Regions from separate parts of the Homo sapiens genome. Here region 2 is linked to region 1. Evidence: fine-mapped expression QTL. A gene starts in region 1. The other region holds a variant in brackets. All regions are shown on one strand. Distances are from middle to middle. Region 1 holds the start of MYO7A (myosin VIIA). Region 2 has its middle 13 kb from the start of PAK1.

Evidence for each region. PIP is the estimated chance that this variant, and not a neighbour inherited with it, causes the effect. A credible set is the group of variants that fine-mapping cannot tell apart.
Region 2: its variant is the best candidate, but not a certain one, in a credible set for the expression of MYO7A in whole blood (INTERVAL, PIP 0.50).

The regions. Positions count from the first base shown.
Region 1 is chr11:77,126,644-77,129,460 of GRCh38, reverse strand. MYO7A (myosin VIIA) reads right to left here and starts at 1,215. Exons shown (of 49, transcript NM_000260.4): 1 at 972-1,215. RefSeq lists enhancers at 1-360, 1,083-1,806, 1,807-2,529.
Region 2 is chr11:77,485,444-77,488,438 of GRCh38, reverse strand. It overlaps a transcript of PAK1 not described here. Among named protein-coding and RNA genes, the nearest start is that of PAK1, 13 kb to the right of the region's middle. The variant C/T (reference allele first, on the strand shown) is at 1,667.

The DNA of each region.
Region 1 (2,817 bases):
GCTCCCAACCTGTCTCCTAGAATGCGCATCAATTTTTCACAAGGGCCCATTCAGAGCCGCCGGGGCATTCGATCCTCTGCCCATGACACTGCCCGACATCCGAGCCCTGACCCCTGCCCTGGAGCTCTGGGACACAGCAAACCCACAGTCCTTCCAGAGACCTGAACTAGTCTGGATGCCTGGTGGAGATGTGGATTCAACAGGGCCAGCAGGCAGTTGCCACCGGGCACTTGTCTGAAGATGGTGCCCAGGCTGTGGAGCAGGCGCCCTATGCCAGCATGAGCCATGAGGGCTGGGGGCAGAGCCAGTGCTTTCACTAGAGACATGGGGCTCCAAGGGATGGGGGAGAGTGGTGAGGGCGTGAAATTTAAGGGCCACATTTTAAAATGACCAGACAGACATTTCATTTCTAAAAATGAGAACTAGACCACCTTCAAGTTAATTTCTTTTCCAACTGACAACAGGGGGCATAGACTGTATTTGTATTTCTATGTCTATACCTGATTTTACCTCTTCCCCACTACAACCCTGGCTGTTGGGGCTTCATACTCCCATTTCACAGATGGGATATTTGGGGCATAGAGGAAGGAAGTGACTTATCCAAAAACGGAGATAAAGAGTGTCAGAGAGAAAGCAAAGGAGACAGAGAGAACGGACTCTTCTCTCTGCCACCACAGCATGTCTATTCCCCTGGCCCCAGGATGCCACTAACCCCAGCCCCAGCTCAGAGAAGATTCGATGGACAACATGCTCCTTGGCTCTTCCCTCCTCCAGGGGACACACATCCATCTTCCCAGGCTCGGGACAGTTTCATTCAGTGGCTGTGGTGGCTGAGCCCTCAAGGGTGGCAGGAAGCCCAGTCCCAGGAGCAAGTGGCTGTGGGGCAGAGGCTCTAGAGGTAGCTCAAGTCCATGACTCCTCCACATCCAAACCCCTCCCAATGCCCAGGACAGTGGGCAGCCCATCCTTACCTGGGGCCCAGCTGCCCACTCTCAGTGACCTGCCAGCCTGGTACAGCTGCCACCTGCACGGAGGACTCAGGAAGCTGGGTCACGGGCCCAGCCAGTCTGCAAACACACGTCCCCTCTTCCTCTGTCTGGCTCCAAGTCTCGTTCTAGGCGTCCCTCTGGGTCTTTCCCTTCCTCGCCGTCTCTCTGTGTGTGTCTCTTGTCTCTCCCTCTCTCTCCTGCCCAGAGCAGCTGTCCAGCCAGCACTGCTGCCCTCCCCTCCTCACTCCAGAGCCTTCTCCCAGGAGGCGGAGCCGGAGGGGGCCTCCAAGGTCTGGGTGCGGTGACATCAGCGTGGGGGACGGGCCGTGCTGGGGCTGGGACTAATGTCCAGAGGCTGCTCAGGGCTCTGTGCAGAGCACTGGCTGCCGACAGGGAGGCGGGGTCATTGGGGTCTGTCTCTGGCTGTGCTGCTGAATGCACCGCACCTGGGCGTGGGCCCCCCAGGCTAGCTTCAGGTGCCTCCTGTTGTTTGCAGGACACCGCCTGCTGTCTCAGCACCTGAGCAGGAAACCGCACCTGATCCTGACTTAATCACTGATGTGCTGGGGTCTCAGCCCCATTTCTTCCTCCTCTACCTGGCTGTTTGGGACTCAGAGAGGGAACGGTCAGGCAGAGCATGGCAGGAGGGAGAGTGCTGAGCTAAAGCCCTGCCTTCTGCGCCTTCTCCCTCCTGCACACCCACCCTTGCCTCTGATGTGTGTTCTCTGACGCTGGTCAATGCAACATTGCCCCCACAACCTGCTCTGCGGGTTGGGGACACATGTTATTCCGTAATCATCCAGAAACTTTGCCAAACCAGCTGACTGGGAGCCACCCCACGTGTGACAGCGACACAGATAAACTGAAGTGAAATCTGTGATTTAAAGGAGTGGGGGGAACCAAGCAAAGAGGAGCACACGTCTTTGTTATTAGCGTTGTCGAGGATGGAGACCTCGCGCGGCCCTATCGGGACATGACAGTTTCTCCTTTCCGCCCTCGGCAGCCACGCAGCTGTCGGCGGCCCCATAGTGCACCTCGCCAGGGCAGCTCTGGGTGGCAGAAGGATGTCTCTTTTGGGTCCCTAGCCCCCATAACTGGGGTGTCTGCAGGGAAGCTGCCCAGAAGGTGGGGTGGGGGCCCAAAGGGGCGCTATAGCTCGCCAGCGCCGCCTGCTGGTCACAGGCCCCACTGCCCAGCTGCTTCCGTCAGGCGGGCTGAGCACCGCTGGGAAGTGACCGTGACAGGAGTCAGCTTCTGCTAGGGCCTGGGTCCCCTCAGACCCGACGACCCTGTCCCAGGAAGACCCCAGGATGCCGTCTGCCCCTTAGCCTGCTGGCCTAACAGGAGTCCAGGAGTCCCTGGAACACAGTCCCCACCTGGGATTTGCACCTGCTGCCGAAACCCAGTACTGGCCACTCCTCAAGTCCCCCCTCTCCATCCTCCCAGGCTGGGCGGGGCCAGTGGCGTCAGCCCTACACGGATGGGGAAATGAGACCCCGGGGGAGCACAGGAGAGCCCATGGCACACGACTGGCAGCAGGGACAAAATGCAGTGAGCTGTGGGAATGGGGCAGAGAGGTGGGCAGGTTATGGGGGACAGGGCGGCCTCCAAACACCAGGATGACAGCTACATTGTGTTCAGCCATGCTATGAACCAGGCACTATGCTAAGCAGATCACACGATTTGCAATACCCATTTCTCAGTCCCATGAAGAAAGCGAGGCATCTCGGTTCACTTTGCCCTCACACTGCACTCACCCCGTCTCCCAAGTCGTTTTTCATTGAGTCGTCCACTCTGCTTTCAGTCATCCCAACCCTGCTTCTCCCCA
Region 2 (2,995 bases), 360 kb before region 1:
ATTTGGTGATCTCATGTTTTCATAGATGGTCTTGATGCTTGTGGATGTCCATTGGTGTCTGGGCATTGAAGAATTAAGCATTTATTGTGGTCTTCACAGTTTGGGCTTGTTTGCACCTGTACTGGAAAGGCTTTCCAGGTATTTGAAGGGACTCGGGTGTTGTGATCCAAGTTTTTTTTTAAATCACTACAGCCATATTTGCCTTAGGGGCAACCCCAAGCCCAGTAACACTATGGCTCTTACAGACTCATAGAGGTAGTGCCTTGGTGGTCTTCGATAAGATGCAGAAGCATTATCCAGATTACCAAGTAGAGACTCTTGCTCCCTTCCTTTACTTTCTCCCAAACACATAAAGTCTCTCTCTGTATGCTGAGCCACCTGGAGCTGGAAGAGGAGTGATACAAGCACCTCTGTGACTACTACCATTGGGACTGCACTGAGTCAGACCTAAAGCCAGTACATAACTGGGTCTTGCCCAAGAGCCACAGTAACTACTGCCTGGTACTTCCTATGTTCACTCAAGGCCCTAGGGCTCTACAATAGAAGCCAGCCAGGCTTGTGTCCTTCTCTTCAGGGCAGTGAGTTCCCCTGACTCCAGGTGGGTTCAGAGATGCCGTCCAGGAGCCAGGCCTAGAGTCAGAAACCTTAGGGATCTACCTGGTGCTCTATTCTACTGTGACTGAGCTGGTACCCAAGACACAAGATAAAGTTCTTCATACTCTTCCCTCCCTTTGCAGAAGAATCTCTCCCTGTGGCCACCATGCCCCAGGCCCACAGCAAGTACTGCCTGGCTACCACCAATGTTCACTCAAGACCCAAGGCTCTTCAGTCAACTTGTGGTGAATGCTGCTGGGCCTGGGACTCTCCCTTTAGGGCCCTGGTCCCAGGGAAGGTCCAGATATGCCATCCACAAGCCAAGGCCTGGAATCAGGAACCCCAAGAGCCTGCTTGGTGCTCTACCCTACTGTGGCTGAGCTGGTACCTAACTGCAAGACAAAGTCCTCTCTACTTTTTTCTCAAGCAGAAGGAGTCCCTCCCTGTGGCTACCATAGCTGGGAATGTGCTGGGTTTACACCTGAAGCCAGCACATCTCTGAATCTCTCACCCAGGGCCCATGGTGAGTACCACCTGGCTATCCCTGCTGTTTATTCAGGACCCAAGGACTGTATAGTCAGCAGATGATGACAAATTCTGCTATTAGTGGGTTCTTTTCCTCAAGGCAGCATGTTCCCTTCTGGCCCAGAGTGTGTATAGAAATGTCATCCAGGAGCTAGGGCCTCGAATGGGGTCCTCAGGATTCTACCTGTTGCCCTATCCTACTGTGGCTGAGCAAGTATCTAAGTTGCAAGACAAAGTCCTCTTTACTTTTCCCTCTCCTCTCCTCAGGTGGAAGGAAGGAGTCTCTCCTGGAGCCATGAGCTGTGCTGCCTGGTGCTGTGGGAGAGGTGGTGCAAGCATTTCCTTGGTTACCCTGGCCAGTGTCTCACTAGGTCACATAACCCCTAAGTCCACTGGCTCTGATCCTGGAACAGCACCCGGACTTGCCGAGGAATTGCAGTCCTGTGGCTTAGACTGCCTCTCAAGTTTACTTAGAACCCCAGAGCATTTTAGCCCACAATGATGAGGCTTGCTGGAACTCAGGTCTCAGCTACTGGGATAGACAATT[C/T]CCCACCCAGATAGGGCTGGTCTAAATGCTCTTCCATGCTTCCATGGGTTCTGGCTGAGTTTTGGATGGTGTTGCTTCCCACTGTGACAGGGTGGCAGTGAGTTCCAATGCAAAGTGTGCCACAATCACTGTGCTTTCCCTCCCCCAAACACATAGATTCTCTCTCCATGCCATGTGGCCACTGCCAGGGGATGGAAGAGGGGTGGTGTCTGCAATTCAAGATGGTTTTTTCTACCCTTTTATGTGCTCTTTAAGTAATATGAAGTTAAAACCAGGTACTATGATTACTCACCTGATTTTTGGTTGTTATGAAGGTGATTTTTTTGTGTGAATAGTTGTTCAATTTGGTGTTCCTGTGGGGAGGACAATTAGTAGAGGCTTTTATTCAGCCATCTTGCCCCACCTCCTCCTCTGCAATTGTCAACTTTTTTTTTTGAGATGGGATCTTGCTATGTTGCCCAGGCTGGTCTTGAACTCCTAGGCTGCTCAAGGAATCTTCCCATCTCAGCCTCCCAAAGTGCTAGGATTACAGGCATGAGCCACATGGCCGGCCTGCAATAGTCAACTTTTAATACCCCCACCGATATCTTAGACTAGGATCACTTGGCTGCAAGGAACAGGAACCTTTTTAAACCAGCTCAAGAAAAAGGGGTGTGTATCAGTCAAGCTTCAAGTGCAGAAAACAGAAATCACTCTAGCTATGGTAAATGGAAGAGGATTTAAAAGGAAATGAGATGTTTATGAAGTTGTTGCAAAGTTAGGAGGAGTGAGCTGTAAGCTAGACCTCCAGGAATAATCCCCAGAATAATACTGCAAAACTGGCTGGCCACTGGAGCTGCCATCTCTTTTACCGTAAGAGAGGTGGAGAATCAAAAAACCATCGACGGAACTACCGATGTTCGAGAACACACTATTATAGTTGCAACCGAAGAATCAGAATGCTGCTGCTGCTCTAGATAACTCCTTTTTAAAATTTTAATTTTACATTAAGAAGTTTAGGCCAGGCATGGTGGCTCACGCCTGTAATCCCAGCACTTTGGGAGACCAAGGTGGGTGGGTCACCTGAGGTCAGGAGTTCAAGATCAGCCTGACCAACATGGTGAAACCCCATCTCTACTAAAAATACAAAATTCACCAGGTGAGGTGGCAGACGCCTGTAATCTCAGCTACTCGGGAGGCTGAGGCAGGAGAATTGCTTGAACCCAGGAGGCAGAGGTTGCAGTGAGCTGAGATTGCGCCATTGCACTCCAGCCTGGGCAACAAGTGTGAAACTTTGTCTCAAAAAAAAAATTTTTTTTTATTTTAAAATTTTTGTGGGTATATAGTAGG